3 linked regions of the Homo sapiens genome follow. The protein of the gene in region 1 purifies or fractionates together with the protein of each later gene. This does not show direct contact. Each region holds a gene or a part of one and is shown in the gene's direction. Other genes may lie near its edges.

Region 1 (5,188 bases):
CACTGGTCTAGATGTTTGCATCATTTTACTTGTTTACAGAATTTGAAACTTAAAATCATACATTTTCAGTAAAATATTTAGTTCGTTCCCCCAGAATCTTAGTAAAGTATTTCATCTGTTAAATTGTTCTATGATGGCTTTAGTATCAACTATATTCTTATGTCAGGTAACAAAATCTGAATTTTTGATAATTTACTTTTTGAAACTTTGTTTTCAAGTTTCTAAGCATTTTGAAGTATATACTTTAGTTTTGGGAAAATGTCACCTATGTAATGAGAAAGAAGTAAATTCTAGAAACCGGAAGTTCTGGTTTTGGTTACTTCACTATCCCCTTATATATTGATTCCTAAACATTCTTTTCATTCCCTGCTTCCTCCCATAATGTCATTGTCTGTTCCTCCATCTATTTTGGTCAGTGCTTTGCTGTCAGCTGTTTGAGTTTTAACTGTGCCAATCTAGCACTTCCTCAGGAGAGATTCTCTTTCATCAGCCTGGAGTAGCAACCCCAGAAATTACCATTCCAAGAGCTTAATTAGATCTTGACAGATCCAAAACAAGCATAAACCCTTGGAGTTCAAGTACCCATGGATGGTAGCTGCCTTAACACACAGGAAACCCCACATTCCCTGGTGTCTGTGTTCTAGGAGATTATTTAGAACCATGTTATTCAATTGGTGGCCACTGCTAAAAAGAGAATTCCAAGAAAGCCCACATCCATCCTGGACTTAAGAGGGTTGGGTTGACCCTAAAAGAGTTAAGATTCCACTGGTATTGAGCACCATTTGTCACAGCATGTTAGGCTTCCTGTGAGTCAGTGCTCTTTTCATTTTCCTTCTCTTGCCACATATCCATCCTGTCTCCAAAACCTGTTTCTGTTTGATGCATATGTCTTGCTTCTATTCATTATCTAGTTTCTGCAGCCAAGTATCTCATCATTTCTACCTTAGTAACCTACTTCTCCCTCTAGCATCACATTCTACACTCAGTCCTTTATGCCTCTTCTGGAGTAATTTTTTCTGCCAGCTAATTCAGTGCTGTCACAGTTTTCATCAAAAGTCTATAATGGTTGACCATTACCATTCGTGGTACTCAAAATTTCATGACCATTTGTCAAGCTGGCCTAAACTACTTTATCCATCCACCTGACACTATCAATCAGCATAATAAAGCAAATGTTGCTTACAGTTTACTTCAGCCAGGTTTTCACCCCCACTTCCGCATCTGCCCCTTGTTCTTTTGTTAGAATCCTTCTTCTCAAATCTTACAGGATTCTTTCCCAAGACTCTTTGTAATGTCGGCTTTCATAGTCATTGCTACTTAGTGTACTTACAGCTTGTCAGTGCATTATAATGTTAAAACTTTTTAGTTTTCTTCTGGATTTAATTCAAGTTATTGTCTTATAAATCTTATGTTTTAATGTGTATGTCAGTGTGTGTCTGTTATTATTCAGGATATATGTTTTATGCTTCCTGGTAGCCTACAGGTAGGTCTTCAATAAATATCCATCTTGGGCTAGACACCTAATTTGTCCAATACATTATACCTTTCTTTTGTCTACTTTTGGTGGTGATCGAATCTACCTTAGAGGGTGGTTATAAGGATAAGGAGGAAAATACTTATTCAGTGTTCCTAGTACAGAGCCTGACAAATAGTAGATACTTCAGAAATGGTTATTTTTATTTTTAATTTAGATGCTATATCTTGAGGGAAAAAATATGGTTTTTTCACTGACACTGGACTACATTAAAAGCTGTTTTTCTATTTCTAGGTTGAATATATTTCAGGAAAGGTTTTTTTCACCACCTGTTCTGATTTGAATATGTTGAAGAAATTAAAATCTGCAGAAAGATTATTTTTGCTGATTAAAAAGCAGTTTCCACTTATTATTTCTTCTGTAAGTAAAGGTATGGCATATTCATATGCATGTTGCTTTTACCCACATGATACATTGTACTCCAACATTTTCTGCTTGATAATATGTAGCCATTTTACACTTTAATATTCATTGACATGTGTGGGATCATTAATTATGTATTTTTCTGTATTTCCTGAATATTATCACCTGATTGTAGTAGAATATTTCTTCTCTTTGCAACCTGCGTGCTGCCTTTTTAATGAGATTTTAATGTCCTAAGCCACATTTCTTCTTTGAGAATTATGATCAGGTACCTTCTCTAGAGATATATATGGTCAGTTGCATTTATTTGGATTTAGAAACATGAACTAATCCAAAATGCATTCTTTTAATAGTAAATCAGTGAAAATCATCACCTTGTAAATTTTAACTGTGTGATATAATTGGAAAAATACTGCATAGTAAAAATTTATATTTCTAGGACCTTAAATGTTTTCGATAAACTTATGCCCACTTACCAAGCATTAGAGGTAAAGGGGGCATAAGAGATTCCTTGTCCACTCTCTAAATTTTATAAATATGCTGCTAAAACAACATATGGATCTTGATAAAAGCAGCAAAACATGGTCAGACACTGCAGGATTAAATGCTGCCGTAAACTTCAATTTGAATTACGTAAGAGATCATGTATTTATAGCCTATAATAAACTATTTTAAGAAAGATGCAAATGGCAAGAAATCAAGACCAAGCAGAGAAAATTGTTTTAAAGCAAATCCCAAAGTATTATACTGTGGGATCAATATAATTCCTCCTAGTACTCTACACACATTCATCTTAAAGAAATACAGTAATTTTGGATCATCTTGATGACTGTGGTTCATCAAGAAGAGATTAAACTTTGCTGAGCATACTGGCAGTATGCTAAGCTATAAATGGGTTGTGAGTTACTTTATGGAAACACATTATAATATACTTATTAATATGGTGTGGGCTAAAATGTAACAGGCCCAAGATTCAGCTCCTCTGTTTCTGAGCTGAGTTTTTCAGTTTATTTTTTTCTTATAAAAACTTAATTTTTATAGGGAAGATCACCATTATTTCAAAGATTGATAAACACTCTAGGTCTATGTATATATTGAAGAGATACATATATTACCATAGCACAAATAATCTTTCTAGGGTATTATATGGTAATTCTATAGGAATTTTAACACAATACGGATGCTATATATGCAATGTAAGAATGAACTTTATTCTGCACAATATTCTTATGGTAAATGGAATATGAACTCCAAATGAAAGTGAAGTTATTCGTGTAGCAATTTAATAAAACTTAATTCAAGGAAATAAAGGTAATTGAGTTTGAGGGTGATGATTGTAATAGATGGTCTTTAAAGCTTCAATAGAGGATCAACAAGATTTTTCTTATTTAGGAAAAATATTTAATGAAATGCAAAGACTTATAAATGAAGATCCAGGAAGTTGGTTGAATGCCATTTCAATTTGGAAAAATCTTCTTGAACTTGATGCAAAAAAGGAAAAACTTTCTCAGAGAGATGATAACCAACTAAAAAGAAAAGTGGGAGAAAATGAAATCATTGCAAAGAAATTAAAAATAGAACAAATGCAAAAGATAGAAGAGAATAGGGACTGCCAGCTGGAAAAACAAATAAAAGAAGAAACTCTGGAGCAAAGAGATTTTACCACTAAAAGCGAAAAGTTTCAAGAAGAAGAATTTCAGAATGACATAGAGAAAGCAATTGATACTCATAATCAGAATGACTTGACTTTCAGAGTATCTTGTCGCTGCAGTGGAACTATTGGAAAGGCCTTCACTGCACAGGTATGCTTGCATCCTAAAGTGGAGTCTGTCGCCCAGGCTGGAATGCAGTTGCACAATCTGGCTCACTGCAACCTCCACCTCCCAGGTTCAGGTGATTCTTTTGCCTCAGCCTCCTGAGTAGCTGGGATCACAGGTGTGCGTCACCACACCCAGCTAATTTTTGTATTTTTAGTAGAGACAGGGTTTCACCATATTGGTCAGGCTGGTCTGGAACTCCTGACCTCAAGTGATCCAACCACCTCGGCCTCCCAAAGTGCTGGGATTACAGGCGGGAGCCACCATGCCTGGCCTGGGGGTCCCATTTTTTAAAGAATTAATTATTCTTTAGATTTAAAATGAGATGCAAACCTCTCACAGAACAAATAACTAGCCGCAGACAATTAGTTCTTATGGAATTAAATGTCTTTAAAACTACATTTTCCTTTTAATTTTTCCTCAGATGTTTAAGAGGAATGGTATGCCATTCCAAGTAATGACTTTCTTATACTTTCTGCCTAAAAATTTCCTTAAATCTACAGATGTCCTTTGTATTTGGAAATCCTGATACCATAGTCCTCAGCTTTTGGGGTTTCTCTTCAGTTCAGCTTTGTGCTTATTCAGTGGCTACTCTGCACAGGTCCTGTACATGGGATTGTCACCAGGACCTAGACTGCAAATGCACATGAGGTCTCAGCAATGTAGAGAAGAGCGAACACCACAAACTGTTGCCATCACCAGACCTCATCAGTTGGCCCTTACAAAGTTCAGTGATGTTAAAGGCCATTGGTCTGAATACTTTATCAACCTTAAAATCAGTCAAACCCTAAAGGGTGAGTCTAATGATACTAATCTGATAATTTTTAAACACATAGGCTTATAGTAGCTGACATAGTTAATCTTTCAGCTTGCATCTATTTCCTGAAACCCAGAATGATCATATTTATCAGGTCATAATCTAGTTATTTCATATACCTAAAATTACAAGGATAGAGATTATGCATGAGTAGACATTAATGCCATGGGGTGTACTGGGGGCTAGGGCAGGTAAAATACAGCCTTACTGCCTTGAATAGGAAATGCTTTCATGTACAATTTTAATATCAGAACTCTAAATTACCATCAGATAGCCTGACTTGATTTTCTTATAGGCTACTCTGTTAGTTTTGCTGACATTTAAACTTAAAATTTTCATTTTTAGTATTCTTTTCTTTAACTTGGTACTTTTCCAGGAGGTAGGAAAAGTAATTGGAATTGCTATTATGAAACACTTTGGATGGAAAGCAGACTTGAGGAATCCACAATTAGAGGTAATGAGTATTTGTTTTATTTTATATACTTGTAACCTAATTCTTTAAAGACAGTGTCCTGTATTCTTATCATACTTTTCCGTTTTATTTTACAGTTATAAAAAGTGTATCTACAGGGATCCAACAGTCCATTTTATCTTTAGCAGTAGAATAGTACAGATAGTTTTGCTAGCAGTTTTCACTGAGAAAATGTCTTATGCAAA
Region 2 (5,188 bases), on another chromosome or scaffold:
TATATAATTGTGTATGTGTATAGATACATATATATATATAGAGAGAGAGAGAGAAAGAGAGAGAGAGAGAGAACTCATGCCCAAGTAATAAAACAATGCAAAGGTACAGAGAAAAATAGAGGGGACAGGGCTGTGTCTTTTCATGAATAAGACTGAGACACATATCCCAGAAAGCCCAGAGGAGGATTATAAAAAAAAAAAAGGGAAAACAACTGAGACATACATTTAAAAAAAAGAGAGGAGGCCGGGAGTGGTGGCCCACACATGTAATCCTAGCAATTTGGGAGGCTGATGCAGGAGGATCACTTGATCCCAGGAGATTGAGATGAGTCTGGGCAACAGAGTGAAACCCTGTCTCTATAAAAATTTTCAAAAGTTTAAAAAAAAAAGGCCAGGCCTGGTGGCTCATGCCTGTAATCCCAGCACTTTGGGAGGCTGAGGTGGTCAGATCACCTGAGGTCAGGAGTTTGAGACCAGCCTAACCAACATGGTGAAACCTTGTCTCTACTAAAATTACAAGCAATTAGCTGGGCGTGGTGGTGTGTGCCTGTAATCCCAGCTACTTGGGAGGCTAAGGCAGGAGAATCGCTTGAACCTGGGAGACGGAGGTTGCAGTGAGCAAGATCATGCCACTGCACTGCAGCCTGGGTGACAAGAGCGAAAATCTGTCTCAAAAAAAAAAAAAAAAAAAAAGTGGATGCAGTGTAAATGTTCCCATTGTCGTATCAGAAGAGATCAGACTATGGTAGCCCAGAGAAGGGAGTGGAAAGGCAGCCTTTAAACTTGGAATTTGATAGGGAAATATTGTCCTTGGGCTGAGATTTAGGACCCTGTAAGCAGAGGGTGTGGTATAAGCAGGGGCCTGGGGATGAATATGAGGTAGACACAGGGAGGCCTGAGTAGCCCGATTTGACCAGAGGTTTGTCGAGTGGGAGATGATGAAGAAGAAGCAGACTGCAGGATCGAAAACCTTGGTTGGTAAAAGATCAGCTGGACTTGGACTTTAGGTATCTTTGGGCTTTTTTTTTTTTTTGAGATGGAGTCTCACTCTTGTCGTGCAGGCTGGAGTGTAGCAGTGCAATCTCGGCTGACTGCAACCTCCGTCTCCTGGGTTCAAGCGATTCTCCTGCCTCAGCCTCCTGAGTAGCTGGGACTACAGGTGCCCGCCACCACACCCAACTAATTTTTTTTGTATTTTTAGTAGAGACGGGGTTTTGCCATGTTAGCCAGGCTGGTCTTGAACGCCTGACCTCGTGATCCACCTGCCTCGGCCTCCCAAAGTGCAGGGATTACAGGTGTGAGCCACTGTGCCCGGTGGTTTTGCTGTTTTCTGATTACTTCTTTGTGTTCCTAAATTATGTGAGGAGCAGAGTTAAAATGATCTGGAGGCAGGGTAAGGTGGTATATACCATTTATATAAGGAGGATAGGGAATGATTATATATATTTATTTGTTTATTCAGGGAAGATTTTTGGAGAGACACAGAAGAAACTAGTAACATTGATTTCCTCTGGGGAAGGAAACTTAAGTTTTTATCTGGTTATGCATAGGTAGTAAATTCCCATTACAGGGGTGCTACTGAAAATAATTAACTGGCACAGCACTGGCACTGATCAGTCAGAAGAGACACCAATCAATATGCCACACATGTACATACTAGCTGAATATCTGCTGTGTTCTCATGGTTCAAAAATTGAAGCCAGATAAAAAGCATAGATTGAGGCTGGGCTTGGTGGCCGATGCCTGTAATCCCAGCACTTTGGGAGGCTGAGGCGGGCAGATCACCTGAGGTCAGGAGTTCAAGACCAGTCTGGCCAAAAGAATGAAACCGCATGTCTACCAAAAAATATAAAAATTAGCCAGGTATGGTGGCAGACACCTGTAGTCCCAGCTACTTGGGAGGCTGAGGCAGGAGAATTGCATGAACCCCAGAGGCAGAGGTCGCAGTGAGCCAAGATCACGCCACTGCAGTCCACCCTGGGCCACAGAGTGAGACCCTATATGAGAAACAAAAGAAAAAAAAAAGTATAGATTGAAACATTTCCCATTCCTTAGGCAGGGAGACTTCTTACTCGTTACCCATTTGAATCTCTCAAATTTTGAATGTTTTACCTATTCAAAAAAGCAAGTAAGTTTAATAGAAACGAAGGAAGGAAGGAAATTCCATTGTTGAGAAAGCTATTATTGTGGAAGGGGCAGTGAAACTGAATTTTAGATCCTGTGATTCTATAAGGAAGGGCTGGATACGTGTGAGTGGAAGGACAGATGGAGCCAGGGGGAGTGCTGGGGCTTCCTCAAGGCCTTCAAGGTTTCTTTTATGACCAATGTAGTCCAGGCTTGGTGGATTTTCCAGTCTACCCATTCTTCTTTAAAATCCAGGCTCAGCCTGGCCGAGTCTGTGGTGGTTTAATGTTCTCTCTGATTCCAATTTATCATCCTTAAACATGAAATTAAAGTGTAATAACTGAACTTACACCTTCTGAGCACATTCTGTGAGCATTCATTAGTATGTAATCTTTATACTGGCAGCATATATTTATTGGAATTGTTTTTTTTGCCTTCATCTCACTCTTAATGGATTCAGATTTTTAAAGATCCCCCTCCTCCATTATTAAAGTAATTAATACCATTGTCTAGAAGTTGGAAAATATAGACAAGTACAGAAAAGAGCAGGAAAATCACCAGTAACTCACAATAAAAAGCAACCACCATTACTATTATCAAGATTCAAGTGGTTGTGTGGGTTGGTAGTTTCCATTTCCTGGGGCTTTGGTTAGAGTTGGGCATGGGTCTGGGCTGGGACATTGTTGCTGGCAGAAGAGAAGGGCCTAGACAAGGTTTGTAAGTTGTGTGCACCTTAGTAGCTTTGCTGGTGGTGTTGATGCCTATGCAAGCATTGAGTATGATAGGAAGAAGGCACATTTGATCTTATTTCAAATGAAGGATGATTCATTGTTTTTTAAGGGCTTGGGAGATGGTGGGATTTAGTTTATTAAGACACTGAGACCTGGGTTAGGGAGTGGGCAGTCTTGAAAAATAAGTTTTATATAGCCCACTCTAGATAGATTTGTGGGATTTACCAAGGGGATCAGAATGATGACTTTTTTGTTTGTTTGTTTGTTTGAGATGGAGTCTTGCCCTGTCAACCAGGCTAGGGTACAGTGGTGCAATCTCGGCTCACTGCAACCTCCACCTCCTGGGTTCAAGCAATTCTTCTGCCTCAGCCTCCTGAATAGCTGGGACTACAGGCACACACCTCCATGCTCGGCTAATTTTTGTATTTTTGGTAGAGACTGGATTTCACCATGTTAGCCAGGCTGGTCTCGAACTCCTGACCTCAGGTAATCCACCTGACTCAGCTTCCCAAAGTGCTGGAATTACAGGCGTGAGCCACCACGCCCAGCCTATACATTTTAAAAGTCATCACTCTGGTCTGGCCAGCCTGGCCAACATGGTGAAACCCTGTCTCTACTAAAAATATATTAAAAAATTAGCTAGGTGTGGTTGTGCATGCCTGCAATCCTGGCTACTCAGGATGCAGAGGAAGGAGAATCACTTGAACTGGGGAGGTGGAGGTTGCAGTGAGCCGAGATTGCGCCACTGCACTCCAGCCTGGGTGACAGAGCGAGAATCTGTCTCAAAAAAAAAAGAAAAAAAATTATCACACTTCAGTCCCAGATGTTATGGGCACAGATACTGCTGCCCTCCTACTTGTTTAAAAGAAGTGCCGGTTGCCAGTGGGCCTTGGTCCCTTGGAAGTGAGTGCCGGGGTGACGCTCAGTTGCCAGACCCCATCCCATGGAGAGGGCCATAGTGTCTCCCAGATGTAAGAAGACCTTTTGTGTGTTTCTCCTTAGGGAGGAATGGGAGCTGCCCTGCTGTCAGACCCTGACAAGATTGAGAAGGTAAGTCCTCCACGAGTGAAAGCAGGGGTCCTCAAACACAGCTCCAAACTAGAATTGTCTAGAACGCCTCCTTCCACCAATACCAGATTTACTGATGTCCACCCAGTTTCTCTCCCTGAGGCCTAGCGATTTCCAAAAAATTTTCCAGTGATTTTGACATGCAGCTAAGTTTGGGAACCCCCGAGCCAGCCTACAGCAGCCTTGATGTTCCTAAAAAGCCCAGAGCAAGAGACATGTCAATGAAGAGCCAGGGGTCCTGAGGACTCACAGAGAACCTCCTCTGTATTTCCTGTCTCCCTTCTGGGAAGGTCTTGAGAGCAGAGGCCAGCCCACCTGTGGTGAGGACGGGCTCAGTGGCCATATGTGTTTGTATGTGTGTGGGTGGATTGGCCTCTCCCAGGGGGCTTGATGAGAGGAGCAGTGGGTCCCCTATGTCCTGAAAGAGTCTACCCCAGCCCTTGGAGAGAAGCCCGGGCCAGGGTCAGAGGAGGCAAGCTGAAGTTAGTCTCTCTCTGTTCCCCTTTCTTTGGTGATTCTGTAGGCTAGCTTAATGAGGCCCTGGGGACAGGTTTGTGTTCCTCTCCCAGTCTGCCAGCTCTTTCCTTTTAGCTCCTTTGTTTTCCTTTTCATTCTCTATCGCTACTTCCCTGTCTGGGCTTTAAGCCTCATCCTGCTTCCCAGAGGCTAGAGCGACTTGGGACTTAGGCATCACCAATGAGAGCTGCCATCATTGCCAATGAGAGCTGCATGGTTGCTGTGCCAGCAGCCCAACCCTGCATGTTCCTCCAGCCCCACTGTCTCTGGGACATAGGAAGACCACTGTGCTTGCTGGCTACATGCCTTCTCGTTTTTCCCATGTGCAGCCAGAGATACTCTATCTATAGTGCACCTGTATAATGTGCCTTTCTTTTTTTTGAGACAGAGTCTTGCTCTGTCACCCAGGCTGGAGTGCAGTGGCACAATCTCAGCTCACTGCAACCTCTGCCTCCAGGTTTCAAGCAATTCTTCTGCCTCAACCTCCTGAGTAGCTGGGATTACAGGCGCCCACGACGACGCCTGGCTAATTTTTGTATTTTTAGTAGAGATGGGGTTTTGTCATGTTGGCCACGCTGGTCTTGAACTCCTGACCTCAGGTGATCTGCCCATCTTGGCCTCCCAAAGTGCTGGGATTACAGATGTGAGCCACTGTGCCCAGCCATAATGTGCCTTTCATTTGATCCTGAAACCCCTTGAAGTAGATAGGATTGGCAGTTATCTCCATTTGATCAAGGACAATAGACTAA
Region 3 (5,188 bases), on another chromosome or scaffold:
TGGGATTTCATCATGTTGGCCAGGCTGGTCTCGAGCTCCTGGCGTCAGGTGATCCGCCCACCTCAGCCTCCCAGAGTGCTGGGATTACAGGCATGAGCCACCGTGCCTGGCTCACTGGTACTTTCTTAAAAGTCTGTTCTTGGTCTTAGGGAAAAAAAGGAACTTGGATTGAGACAGAAGATAAAGTAATTGGGCAGACCAGTTTGTTGTTTTCCTATTTTTTTCTAAAGGCAAAGGAAAAGAAAACAGTCAAATCCAATTCACCTGTGGAGGAAAAATATGACTGAGAGAGCTGAAGGGGTCACAGTTCTGCTTTGCTCGGGCATAGAGTTGTTATTGGTGGAGTCATAACTATAAAGTTCTCCTTACTGGATTGAAAAAGCACCCCTGGAGTTTATAGGATTTTCCTCTTAGAGATGCTGAGTTAACTGTGCTTTCAAAGTCAATCCATAGCTTTTCTTATCAAAAGTATTCCAGTTATTCTTTTTCTCCATAGCTATGACCACACCTAGGAGATGGGATTCTTCTACCCTGTGCTACTACTTTTTTTTAGTTTGCATCTGACTGAAAGGCCTCAAACCTAATAGTACTCAGTGAATATGACACATATATTAGTGTCCCTGAGGACTACTTCAAGTTTTGGGTTACAGGTAGATAGTAAGCAAAGTTAGATCCATGGTGACAGAAATAGCAAAAGGACTGGAGTAAAGGGGATTTACTGGTGTTCCCTATCTTAATGTTGTCTGTATGTTTTACTGTGTTCATCTCTCAGGGCAACCTGTGAAGAAATCAGTGAGCCAGGTCACCAAATCAGTTGACTTCCACTTCCGCACAGATGAGCGAATCAAACAACATCCTAAGAACCAGGAGGAATATAAGGAAGTGAACTTTACATCTGAACTACGAAAGCATCCTTCATCTCCTGTAAGTTGATGGACTAAATGAACATTTCTGTTACTAATATTCATTTAGGATTTTACGTGTAGCATTTGTGGTCACTGTTTATAATAGTATAATTGAGAAAAAAAACCTTGTGTCTATAAAGTTGTGTAAAATATAACAGATCTTTTTTTTTTTTTGAGATGGAGTTTCACTTTTGTCGCCCAGGCTGGAGTGCAATGGCACGATTTCGGCTCACTGTAACCTCCGCCTCCCGGGTTCAAGTAATTCTCCTGCCTCAGCCTCCCAAGTAGCTGAGATTACAGGCGCCTGCCACCACTCCCAGCTAATTTTTGTATTTTGTAGAGACAGGGTATCCCCATGTTAGCCAGGCTGGTCTCAAACTCCTGACCTCAGGCGATCCACCTGCCTCAGCCTCCCAAAGTGCTGGGATTACAAGTGTGAGCCATCATGCCTGGCCAATATAACAGATCTTATAGGAAAAATAGGGTTGGGGCAGACCAGTCAAATCTCATGCAGTTTTGTTACCAGAGCACCAACAAAATCAGTAATAATCGTTAAGTAAAAATGCTAGTACTAATAATCTCCACTTGCATTTGTAGTCAGTATCATCATTTTTTGAAATTAGTTATTTGCATTCTTAAACCCTGAGGTTATGCTTCTTTCTTTGAGATACAGGTCCTTGAAGGGTTTTGCTTCCAATTAGAGACCAGTTTTATCAAAATTACTGGTCCAAGGAATAGGAATAGGCTTCTTCATCAGTCTCTTTAGGGGATGTATGGAGAGATTCCACTGATTCAGGAAGCTGCCTGACCTGATGCATACCCAGAGGCCCAATCAATTTTTTTTTTTAAAGTGGAGTTGAGGGTGAGATTTCTTTGCAGTGCTTTTTGTCTTCAATTCTAAGATAGCTTACTCTGGATTCCTTCAAAACATTGACATGGTTGGGGGGAAATTACCTATGTACTATTCCAGAACATAAGATTTGTTAAGTGCTAGATCCTTTCTTCCATTTTTAATTTTTTTTAATGAGAACAGATTAGTTATAACCCTTGCTCAAGGACTGACAAACTTCAGAATAATAATCTTGGTTTTACACAGGCCTTTTTTATTGATCCTCTGTGCCGAATATGTGGCTTATGGTAGATGTGAGCTCTTCCGTGACATTTCATTTGGGGAACAACTTTTCTCTTTACAGGCCCGAGTGACTAAGGGATGTACCATTGTTAAGCCTTTCAACCTGTCCCAAGGAAAGAAAAGAACATTTGATGAAACAGTTTCTACATATGTGCCCCTTGCACAGCAAGTTGAAGACTTCCATAAACGAACCCCTAACAGATATCATTTGAGGAGCAAGAAGGATGATATTAGTAAGTTTCCTACCAGTATCACAGTTGGATGGAACCTCTCCTACATTCCCTCTGCTTACATCTTAGGCACAGATTTGTCTTTAGCTGAAATCCTAGTTTTTCAATTAAAGTATGGCGTGTGACTATGCAGACAACAAATGTATCCTTCAGAATTTTTCAAACCACCCAGCTGTCTGTCTTATACCCATCAACCGTCTTGATCCTCCTCATCAATAATTGGCCAAGGGGAATGAGTTAAGGTAACCTGAGATGTCATTACACATCCTTAACGGACATTTTTTTGCCATGTGTCAAAGTGTCACATTGCATTTAGTTACCTATAGAAAATGAAGGCATTTCATTCATTCAAGGCTATGTGCTTTTTATTCAGTGGTCCACCAAAATTTTTACTACTACTAACCAGGCACACTGTGTTAGGTATATAGAGGTAAATAAAATAGACTTGGTGCTACTCAACATCAGGTTTCTAATTCAAGTTTCAAAACTCGACATCAAGTTTCAAAAGCCTTTACCATAATTTGTAGTGACCTATTTATCTCTGTCATTAGAGATACACTAATTAGTTCTTTGCATTCTTAAACTGTCATTAGATAAACAGGTCACTACAAATTATGGCAGGGGATTTTGAGGAGGAGGGAGGTGCAAGAGTCAAAGGAGGTGGGAGATAGGGAGAGCATGTCTGAATGTTGAGAAGTCTCGTCAGAGATAAAGAAGCTGAAGGTACGAGAGAGAGGAGATAACTAATGGATTAAGTCCCTGAGCAGGCAGGTATTGGAGGGATACTTAGCACAGGTGGAGTGAGTGTTCTTTAAAAGGAGGATGGAAGAGTGGGAGGAATGGGTGCAAATACTGGGGGAGTTTGTAGATTTGGTGGTGAGCAGATGAGCGGATTCTAATGTAATAGTTTCTATCTTTATGGAAATAATTTCTGCAAGAAGGAAGATGAAATCTGAAGGGTGGAGGTGGTATTAAATAGTTGTTGGGAGTATAGGGATAGTATTCTGGATAAAGCAGAATGTGGTTGTTTTACCTTTGAGGATCTCTAAATTTTTTATATCCTTGCATAGGCATTTTTTTTGAGACAGAGTCTCGTTCTGGGTGTCATCACCCAGGCTGGAGTGCAGTGGCGCGATCTCGACTCACTGCAACGTCCACCTCTTGGGTGCAAGAGATTCTCGTGCCTCAGCTTCCCGAGTAGCTGGGATTACAGGTGTGTGCCACCATGCCCAGCTACTTTTTGGATTTTAAGTAGAGACCAAGTTTTGCTCTGTTGGCCAGGCTGGTCTTGAACTCCTGGCCTCAAGTGATCCGCCCGCCTCAACCTCCCAAAGTGCTGTGATTACAGGTGTGAGCCACTGCGCCTGGCCAAGTACAGCATTTTTTAATATTATTATTATGTTCTAGTGGCCAAAATGATTTTGTTAGATTTTATAGTATGAAAATAATGAAATATTCTTCTTTATTCTAATGGAAATTTAAATATTAAGCATAACTTTTCAAATAATATATGACTCAGAGTCTGATATGTCCTGCTTTCAGAATACTAGTCCTGGCAAAAGGAAAGAGAAATTATATTATGCAATTTTTATTTAAAACTTTGTACAGTTACAGCTAAATAATGGTTACATGTATCTTTGAAACATGGCTTATTTCTAAAATAGATTTGGTTTTGATCTACCACTGTTATGTGACAAGACCTAAATTGAAAGATTCATTCTATATTAGTTATGAAAATTGACAAGGTTTCACTGGCCAGGTAAATTAATATTTTCAATGAGTGGTGGTGATGTCTTAATATTGATGCTTTAACATAGTTTTTAACTTTCTCCATTTGATTTTCTGTAAGATGTGGTCTTGATGCTTTTATATTGATTTCATAAAATTGGGAGTTTTCACTTGGTCTTCTTTTGTTATTTATTTATTTATTTATTTTCCTTCTTGTTTTGCTTTTTAGAGACAGGGTCTTGCTCCGTCACCCAGGCTGGAGTGCAGTGGCGTGATCATGGCTCACTTCAGTGTCCAACTCCTGGGCTCAAGCAATCCTCCTGCCTTAGCCTTCCAAGTAATTGGGACTATATATAGGTGCATGCCACCATGCTTACCTAATTTTTATATTTTCTTAGGAGACAGGGTCTCATTATGTTGCCCAGGCTGGTCTTGAGCTCCTGGCCTCAAGCAGTTCTCCTGCTTTGGCCTTCTAAATTGCTAGAATTACAGGTTTGAGCCATTCTGTTCAGGCTTTACTTGGTCTTTAGGAAGGCCTTATATCTTTTTTTTTTTTTTTTTTTTTGAGACAGAGTCTCGCTCTGTCGCCTAGGCCAGAGTGCAGTGGCGCTCATTTGGCTCACTTGGCTCACTGCATGCTCCGCCTTCCAGGTTCATGCCATTCTCCTGCCTCAGCCTCCCGAGTAGCTGAGACTACAGGCGCCTGCCACCACGCCCGGTTAATTTTTTGTATTTTTAATAGAGACGGGATTTCACCGTGTTAGCCAGGATGGTCTCGATCTCCTGACCTCGTGATCCCCCTGCCTCGGCCTCCCAAAGTGCTGGGATTACAGGCGTGAGCCACTGTGACCGGCCAGGAAGGCCTTATATCTTAAAGCTGGAATAAGCAAAAATTTTTTGTGTTAATAACAAGCAAAATAATTGGCATTGTCAATAGAAAGTATAGGCCTGGCCAGGCACAGTGGCTTAACGCCTATAATCCCAGCACTTTGGGAGGCTGAGGTGGGTGGATTGCTTGAGCCCAGTAGTTCAAGACCAGCCTGGGCAACATAGTGAAACCCTGTCTCTACAAAGAATATAAAAATTAGCTGGGCATGGTGGTGCATGCCTGTAATCCCAGCTGCTTGGGAGGCTGAGGTGGGAAGATCACCTGAGTCCAGGGAGGTTGGATTTGTAGTGAGCCTTTATGCCCC

The links. Proteins that work in one complex are often made in the same cells at the same time.
Region 2: the proteins of THUMPD2 (region 1) and DUS2 fractionate together in Homo sapiens (co-fractionation; one large-scale study listed by BioGRID). This does not show direct contact.
Region 3: the proteins of THUMPD2 (region 1) and TPX2 fractionate together in Homo sapiens (co-fractionation; one large-scale study listed by BioGRID). This does not show direct contact.

Annotation. Positions count from the first base shown.
Region 1 is NC_000002.12:39,768,221-39,773,408, reverse strand, and holds part of THUMPD2 (U6 snRNA (guanine-N(2))-methyltransferase THUMPD2), read left to right. Parts: intron 1-1,768; coding exon 1,769-1,904; intron 1,905-3,289; coding exon 3,290-3,699; intron 3,700-4,217; coding exon of another isoform or gene 4,218-4,364; exon of another isoform or gene 4,365-4,907; coding exon 4,908-4,985; intron 4,986-5,188. UniProt on the Homo sapiens protein: Catalytic subunit of the THUMPD2-TRM112 methyltransferase complex, that specifically mediates the S-adenosyl-L-methionine-dependent N(2)-methylation of guanosine nucleotides, most probably at position 72 (m2G72), in the U6snRNA of the major spliceosome.
Region 2 is NC_000016.10:68,057,209-68,062,396, forward strand, and holds part of DUS2 (tRNA-dihydrouridine(20) synthase [NAD(P)+]-like), read left to right. Parts: intron 1-3,857; coding exon 3,858-3,905; intron 3,906-5,188. UniProt on the Homo sapiens protein: Catalyzes the NADPH-dependent synthesis of dihydrouridine, a modified base found in the D-loop of most tRNAs. Specifically modifies U20 in cytoplasmic tRNAs. Activity depends on the presence of guanosine at position 19 in the tRNA substrate.
Region 3 is NC_000020.11:31,776,715-31,781,902, forward strand, and holds part of TPX2 (targeting protein for Xklp2), read left to right. Parts: intron 1-772; coding exon 773-924; intron 925-2,098; coding exon 2,099-2,270; intron 2,271-5,188. UniProt on the Homo sapiens protein: Spindle assembly factor required for normal assembly of mitotic spindles. Required for normal assembly of microtubules during apoptosis. Required for chromatin and/or kinetochore dependent microtubule nucleation.